Homo sapiens: one gene and its partner. The protein of the gene in region 1 interacts with the protein of each later gene in a pairwise test. Each region holds a gene or a part of one and is shown in the gene's direction. Other genes may lie near its edges.

What was found.
Region 2: the proteins of H2BW1 (region 1) and PPP1R2B interact in binary tests that used the Homo sapiens proteins (3 or more experiments, as listed by UniProt).

The regions. Positions count from the first base shown.
Region 1 is NC_000023.11:104,010,873-104,015,166, reverse strand, and holds H2BW1 (histone H2B type W-T), read left to right. Parts: upstream 1-1,458; 5' UTR 1,459-1,590; coding exon 1,591-1,997; intron 1,998-2,418; coding exon 2,419-2,455; 3' UTR 2,456-2,477; intron 2,478-3,703; 3' UTR 3,704-4,020; downstream 4,021-4,294. UniProt on the Homo sapiens protein: Atypical histone H2B that can form nucleosomes structurally and dynamically indistinguishable from those containing conventional H2B.
Region 2 is NC_000005.10:156,848,759-156,853,251, forward strand, and holds PPP1R2B (protein phosphatase inhibitor 2 family member B), read left to right. Parts: upstream 1-1,536; 5' UTR 1,537-1,804; coding exon 1,805-2,422; 3' UTR 2,423-3,770; downstream 3,771-4,493. UniProt on the Homo sapiens protein: Inhibitor of protein-phosphatase 1.

The DNA.
Region 1 (4,294 bases):
ATATATTACAATTTTGCATCACGTAGATGATGGGAACATCCTGTGAGAGCAGCTCATGCCATAGTCACCACTGGCTCAGGCAATAAAGGCTTTCCAGCCCTTGAGGCACCACAAGCCATGGCTGAAAGTGTGGGGAGGTGACCCGGAAATGAACCAGTGAGAGCCTCCCTGGGAGGTTTAACCTTGCAGATTGTGAAGAAAAACGATGTGGCTCTTTCCCTGTTTTTTGTTTGCTTTTTTTTTTTTAAGAAAAATATCATGCTGACTTACTGATATGAATACAGAGATTGTTGTGGACAGGTCTCTTGTGCCTTGTACCAAACTACGAGAAGGATTGTCTTGCTAAACGTTTAAGTAGATTTATAAGATCATCATTTGTAAAGGGGACTGTTCAGAAATGGTGTACTAGAGTTCAGTCACAGAGCTTACCATATACGATCTTATCTAACAACAAAAATGAGCCTTTTTGTCCTTCTTAATCGTGAACCAATTTATTAGGAGTAGAATAAGTTGTTTGCTAAAGACATGACAGGAAATACACTTGAAAGCCTGACCTTTGAAATGACAGTTCATCGATGACCTTTATTTCTTCAGCATTTCTTAAGAATCTTTCTTGTTCAATTCCTGCAACTTAATGTTACTTAAATGCATTTAAGGAATGCCTTTGCGTATATTATCAGAGACTCTTGAAAGCTCTCTTTCTAACTTGAACATAATTTCCATTTCTGGAATCCCTTTCTCTCCCTCAGGGGCTTCCTAGGAGATTTAAGGCGATATTTTTTAACCCAATATCTCTTAAACTTATTAGCCATTTCCAGCTTTTGAGTTGTGATTTGTGGTTGTTGTTTTGCTTTCCTTTTTTTTTTTTTAATTATTTTTTTAAACCTGGTCGATGTCGAGTGTTGTCATATGTTTTTAATAAAAGTGCCTTTCTGTTTCTATTGTCTGCTTGGAGGCTGGGGTATGGCCATTTCTCATTCTCCTGATTCACGGAAGATGTTGATCAGTACTGAAGCCCGGAGCCAGACCGCTAGGTCCTTTGATGCCCAGGCGGCCATGTCAGGGAGTTCCTGCTCAAGCCAGGGTGGCTTAGCCCAGGATAACAGTAGCTTCTGAGATGGGTGACAATTGTTCCACACGTGGCCACAGTCATTCTTCCGGCATAATGGACTTGGGCTCAGGAGGTCTGTCTCTCCTCAGGGATCATGAGCTGAAATTGCTAAACTTTGGGAGTTTTCAGTGACACCCTTCAAAGTGCTCACAGTGTGGCATGGATCAGCTGAGAAGGGCGGATGCGCTTTTGCCCCGTGAGGCATCTATCTGTGTAACTTTCTCCGAGCTGGGCCACAAGGGGCGCTTAGGCCCGCAGACGCCCACTGTGATTGGTTGACGAGATGCCACGCAACGGGACCATCCAGTCACCTTCAACGCAGGTAGGTTTGCTGAGAGGCTCCCTGCGTGACACTTCATCCAATCAGACGTGAAGCTGGCCCGAGACGTGGAGCCATGCTGCGTACCGAAGTGCCCCGGCTTCCCCGGTCCACAACCGCCATTGTCTGGTCGTGCCATCTAATGGCCACTGCCTCCGCCATGGCTGGACCTTCCTCTGAGACGACCTCTGAGGAACAGCTGATCACCCAGGAGCCCAAAGAGGCCAACTCCACTACGTCCCAGAAGCAGAGCAAGCAGAGGAAGCGAGGGCGCCATGGGCCCCGCAGGTGCCACTCCAACTGCCGCGGGGACAGCTTCGCCACCTATTTCCGCCGGGTGCTGAAGCAGGTTCACCAGGGCCTCAGCCTTTCCCGGGAGGCCGTGAGTGTCATGGATTCTTTGGTTCATGACATATTGGACCGCATCGCCACCGAGGCTGGTCACCTGGCCCGCTCCACCAAGCGCCAGACCATCACTGCCTGGGAGACCCGGATGGCTGTGCGCCTGCTGCTGCCGGGGCAGATGGGCAAGCTCGCCGAGTCCGAAGGCACGAAGGCTGTCCTCAGGTACACCAGGAGCAAGTGCGCTCCCTCAGGAGCACCCGAGCACCACGGGAACCCAAAGGGTCTTTTCAGAGCCACTGAATGTGGCCTGAAAGACCAGTGGCTCGCCAAGGGGGACACCACCGGAGGCTGGGGTGGGTGGTGCCCTTCCGACTTGGGGGGCATGTGGCGTGTGGCATCCTGCAATGTTTCAAGCATTTTCCCCTCAGTACTAAACATTGTCAGCTCCAATATATCTGTAGTGCAGTTTGCTCCAAGGAAAAATAGTGGGTGTTTCCGTGATCGTGTTTCATTTCCTCAGTTTCGTAAACGGTCATTTTTGTTAGTTATGTTTCTAGGCTATCTATATGGTGATATTATTACTGCACTGATCTTTACCTTTTTCTGTCTCATTCTCCTGTGACTGGATGGTGGAATTTTCCAGAACTTCACTGTATGCCATACAGCAACAGAGAAAGTGAATACGCTGATACAAGAAGCAAGGTAACCCTCCTAAATGTTTTCAACACCGCTCCCATCACGAATCCATGTAAATAAGCAAATGAGGCCAAGTTACAGTGTACATACAGCTAAATAAAATTTTCAAGAATCCGTTCATTTTCCAGCTTCCTCGACTCTGAGATCACTATTGCAGTTCATTCTTTTTTTGCCATGACGATAATCTTTTCGTTTCTTTTTAAACAGAAACCTTCGTTACTTCCAGGTTTGTGTCAGTAGGCTTAGGGAGTGTCCACAGAAATGGCTCATGCCCTAGTGTTCAGTGGTGTAGCCAATGAGTGACTTGCAGTCTATGAGCAACAGTCATTGTCCCAGTGTGGGGGCAGTGAACCAGGCTGAACCCACAACAGCCTTGCACTGATATGCAGTCTGGTGTTTGGGGGGACAGGGTTGTGATTCTTTACCTGATGTTTTTGTTTTCAGTGTTTGTAATCATGGTCATTTAAGGATATGAATCCAGTGCTAGGAGTAGTATATGTTCCTTGCCCCTAGCATCAAGTTATGCAGAGGATGGTCAGCCTTTAGGAGAAGTCAGATAACGCTTATTTCCTCAAGAGATTTGCATATTAATATTCATGTTAATGTTAATATAGGTTAGCTTTCATTGTGCTTTCTTCTGGGTCCCAAGTCTTTGTATTTTTAGCACTTTTTCCTATGAGTGTATTGTTGAATTTCAGAGCAGCTGCTGACTTTCCCATTGCTTTTCTTTTCAGAGGATCTCCAGCCGCCCGAGTATGTGGACCAGAGAACATACTCTGGGATTGCGACCCATAGGAATTTATTGTATTGTGCCTTGAAGCTCAATATGTGGCCATTTTTGTCAAATGTTTCCCGTGAATTTTGAAACATCTCATAAACAACCTTTCTCCTTCATATGTAGAAACCAGTAAAGGGTGACACTCTCAGTCAAACCATGAAACAAAAGCTGGGAAAATGACAAAAATCAAAATTTTCTTGAGCCCATCAGAAGTGGGAAAGAACCACACCAGATGGCCCAACACATAGCCACATAGATTATTCCACCTTTGGCAGAGGACCGTTTGGTCAAGAGGGAAATGGGGGCATGGCAGGATAGTAGCCAGAGCTTCCCTGAGTAGTGCATTTGGGCAGCGTGGGCAGTTCACCTCCAGAGCTCCACTTGGGCTCCGTAGAGAAAGGATGTAGGGCCAAGAAGTCCCCTCATTGGGATTTGCTACTTTCTGTTTTTGCAGAATATTAGAAAAATGTCATGAAAATAGTTGAAGAGAAATGCTCACTGCACAAGGAGACCAAGAAAAACCCCCCACGAAATCAGCCACAACTAAATCGCTCTGGACGGTGCCGCCAGGTGACCCTACATGTCCGGAGCAACACTTTGAAAACCAAAGACGCTTGGCAGAACCCTGTTCCTTTCCAGAGACAGAGCTGTGTACCTTGTCTAAAACACCGCATCTCACTCAGTGACTTATTTCTCATTATGCTAATTGTTTTCGCTTTAAAGCGCCAGTCTTTCTGTCAAATGGGACATACAAATAAATTTCTAAAATTATCCTTGCATGTCTACTGGGTAATTTGACATGTCTTTTTCAGAAACCGTATCCATTGGGATATTTTACCCTGGAGTGTGTGTTTTCCATTTGTAAATTCAGAAATGAATGAGGAGCATTAGTAAAACAGCGTTAACAATGAACTCTGATTGGGCTGTGGGGAGTGAAGAGTGAGAGTTCAAGGGGACTGATGCCGGTGAGTTATAGGAAGAAAGAGAAAAAGGCTGCTTTGATGTGAAGATGGGCAGAGGAGCTCACACATCTGCTATAGCATTT
Region 2 (4,493 bases), on another chromosome or scaffold:
TGGCAAAACCCAATCTCTACTAAAAATACAAAAAATTAGCCAGGTGTGGTGATGCATGCCTATAGTCCCAGTTACTCAGGAGGCTAAGCCACAGGAATCTCTTGAACCCAGGAGGCGGAGGTTGTGGTGAGCCAAGATTGCACCAGTACACTCCACCCTGGGTTACAGAGTGAGACTCTGTCTCCACCAAAAACAAAACAAAACACAACAACAACAATAACAAAAATATGGAGTCAAGAGAAAAAGGAAAAAAGAATGAAAGGAACAAAAATATAGAGAAAAATTGCCTAAAAAGACAAAAATCAAGAATTATGGATGTTCAAGTGGGAACTGAGCAAAAACAAGGGGTAGAAAACTTATTCAAAGAAATAATAAGAGAAAACTCTCCAAAACATGAGAAAGAAAAATACCTAGGTACAGGAAGGTCAGAGAACACCAAACAGATTCAACCCAAATAAGAGTACTTTAAAGGATATAATAATCAAATTCTCAAGTCAAGGACAAAGAGATACTCCTAAAAGCAACAAGAGAAAAGCAGCAAATGACATATAAAGAAGCTCCAATTCATCTGGCAACAAACTTCTCAACAGAAACCACACAGGCCAGAAGGGAGTAGGATGACATTTTGAAAGTGCTGAAAGAAAGTAACTGCCATCAAAGACTACTGTATCCAGCAAAGCTATCATTCAAACAGGAGGGATAAAGTCTTTCTCAGACGAACAAAAGCAGAGAGAATTCAACACCAAACCCATCCTATAAAAAATGCTAAACGGAATTCTTTTTTTTTTTTCTTTTGAGACAGAGACTCAGTCTGTCACCCAGGTTGGAGTGCAATGGCATGATCTCAGCTCACTGCAACCTCCACCTTCCAGGTTCAAGTAATTCTCCTGCCTCAGCCTCCCAAGTAGCTGAGATTACAGACACGCACCACCATGCCTAGCTAATTTTTGTATTTTAATAGAGACGAGGTTTCACCATGTTGGCCAGGCTGGTCTCAAACTCTTGACCTCAAGTGATCTGACCACCTCAGCCTCCCAAAGTGCTGGGATTACAGGTATGAGCCACCGTGCCACATCGGGAATTCTTCGATAAGAAAAACCACCATCACCACCGCCACCACCATGCAAAAAGAAAACATTTGAGGTATAAAACCCACTGTAAGTACACAGAAAAATCCAGAATGCCCTAATACTTGTAAAGGTGGTGTGAAACCCACTTATAACTCTAGTATAAAGCCTAAAAGACAAATCAAAAACTTTAATAGCTACAGTAATCGTCAAGAGTTAGGCAATATAAAAATATATTAATTGAGACAATATAAAGTCAAAATGTGGTGGGGGGATAAAGTTTGTTTCTATTGTGTTTTCGTGCTCTGTAAGTTTTCATCTCTTTACAACTTGTTACATCTATAAAGATGTTTTTTTTTGTAAGCCTCATGGTGTCCACAGTACAAAAGAACTATGAAAAAGGGCGTCGGATTTGCTCCACCCCCCCCACCCCCACCACACCCACCACCCCCCACCCACCACTCCCCGCGGAGCTCTAGGCCGGCATCTCTCCGCGAGCCGCGGGTCAAGTGCCGGCGGCTAATGGTGCGCGAGGAGCCGCCACCCATTCGGCGTTGGCTCTGGCGTCGGGGTCGTTGTGACAACCGCTCCAGTAGCCGTTTCCGAGGCAGCAGGTGCGGCCGCTTTAGCCCTGAGCGGGCTCTGCGGCTGCCTGCGAGTCTCTGCTGTGCCGACCCTTCTCTTCGCGGACCCCACGCCAAGCAGCGACCCTGAGGCGACAGCCGGAGCGCCCGGCAATGGCGGCCTCGACGGCCTCCCACCGGCCCATCAAGGGGATCTTGAAGAACAAGACCTCTACGACTTCCTCTATGGTGGCGTCGGCCGAACAGCCCCGCAGGAGTGTCGACGAGGAGCTGAGCAAAAAATCCCAGAAGTGGGATGAAATTAACATCTTGGCGACCTATCATCCAGCAGACAAAGGCTATGGTTTAATGAAAATAGATGAACCAAGCCCTCCTTACCATAGTATGATGGGTGATGATGAAGATGCGTGTAGGGACACCGAGACCACTGAAGCCATGGCGCCAGACATCCTAGCCAAGAAATTAGCTGCTGCTGAAGGCTTGGAGCCAAAGTACCGGATTCAGGAACAAGAAAGCAGTGGAGAGGAGGATAGTGACCTCTCACCTGAAGAACGAGAAAAAAAGCGACAATTTGAAATGAGAAGGAAGCTTCACTACAATGAAGGACTCAATATCAAACTAGCCAGACAATTAATTTCAAAAGACCTACATGATGATGATGAAGATGAAGAAATGTTAGAGACTGCAGATGGAGAAAGCATGAATACGGAAGAATCAAATCAAGGATCTACTCCAAGTGACCAACAGCAAAACAAATTACGAAGTTCATAGAAGAGATTTGTTCAACACTGCAATTGTTTGTTAGATATAAACCCTGTGACTATAATACATTGCTTCTTGTTCTCCACAATTCATGACTTAAGTACCAAAATGCATACCAGTTATTATATATTGCCAAGAATTAAATGATAAACTTAGAGACTAATTAGACTGAAAATGCCTAATTGATATATATATTCTTATGCCTAGTACTTTACCACAAATACAGTGTAATATCATCAGTCCAAAACTGCATTACTTTCATAAGAACACTGGTTAATTTGTATAAGATATTATAGAGCTTTTTATGCTTTAGAAGTTAAGCAATATCTTTGGGGGGGAACTAATTTATTTTCATCACTCGAAATGTGGTAGCTCTTACAAAGTTTGTTGATTTGTTTTTTTAAAAATCAAAAGCCAGTTGAACAACAGGATATATAGACTTATAAATATTCAAGCTGAATCGTATTTTAACACTTCTCTTCAACTTGATTTGTCTGTTTAATTGAAAAGAATTGTAAGAGTTACTGTTGCATTTTCTGACCTACTACCTTTAAAATTCCTGTTGAGTTTCTTTGTGTTTACAAGGAAAGGACTGAACTTTTTCTCATCAAAACTAGCTTTTTTCCCCACAAATAAATTATCAGGTTAAACTTTCACCAATGTCTGCTCTGTTTTTTGGCAGGGGGTTTGTTTGTTTTTGTTTTTTAATGTTTTTGGTACACTGGGCAGACTTCAGAGCAGTTTTTTAAAAAATAAATATTCTAATGTAGCTATCTCGCCATTCCCTTTAAATACCTGTCTTAACCTCCTGCTTTTATTTCCTACTCCTTTCCACACATACACACACAATCTTTTACCTTTTAAAGGATCATTAAGATTGTCACGACATTAGGAACTCTTTCTGTCACTCTTCTGTCATTTGCTGCTGTGTGGAAATTCTTATTTTGACCATCAATGCCTATGAATTCTTCTAATACATGAAGAAAATAGATTGAGTAGCAGCAGTACTATAGGCAGGAAATACAGTTTAACTGCTGAATTTCTATGCCTCTCGATTTACAGATTGCTAATTAAATTGCTATTATTAGTTTGGCTTAATTAGACTTAAGAAAACAACCGAGGGTTTTTTTTTGTTTTTTGAGGGTTTTCTTTGCATGAGAATTGTATGTAACCAGTGATATGATTATTCCTGAATGTACAGACAGAAGTAAGCCTGGACATTTTTTAATTTAAAAACTTTAAATAGTCCCTGCTTTAAGGGAATATGATAATGTATACTATGACAAATGTACTTTATTCCTCTAACGCAGTAAGAATTATGTGGAATATTTTCCTTAAACGAAGTGCAGGAAAGCCCTGTGTGTCTTGGTTTGGTTATGGTTTCATTTCTAGCCATACAATTGATGAATCGTATACAATTTTCGTTAGTACCAAAATAATCTGTTATATGAACAGACTTCTAAAATAATGTCTGTATAATATATATTTATATATATAAAATAAGGCTTTTATTGAACAGCTTATCTTCCACTTGCAGGTTTATAGAAATATCAGTATTTCAAAATAAATAAAAAGTGGGAGAATTCTTTGCTGTTAGAAGAATGTGGTTATTATTTTGATTTTTTTAAATGAGATATATAATCAAAGTACTGCTGAACTATAAGTGCAGTATTCTAAACATTTCATCTAGTAATACCACTGATTTAGAAACAAAACTGTTTATCTCTGGTTTCTGAATTTAGAATTTTGGGATTACCTGTTTAAATCTGTCTTGGGGGATGTAGAGATTAAGTCTGTACATATGTGTGCACATATATTCATGCAACCTCTGATTTTGGTTTTCTTGTTTCTGAGTTCTTAGAAAGTGTCCACATACTCTTTTTTGTAGAAGTAGCTGTTGTAGAGTGAAGAAAAGGATAAGACTTTAAACAGTTGATTCTTTTTGTGTTTTCTACAAACTATTTTTTGAAATTTAAATCACAAGCAAACTCATTTTCTGGTTTTTAGAAAGTAGATGATTTCAGAGGAGTAAGGCATGCCAAGCAGCATGCTCAGTGGGGTTTTAGGCTGTCACATGCAG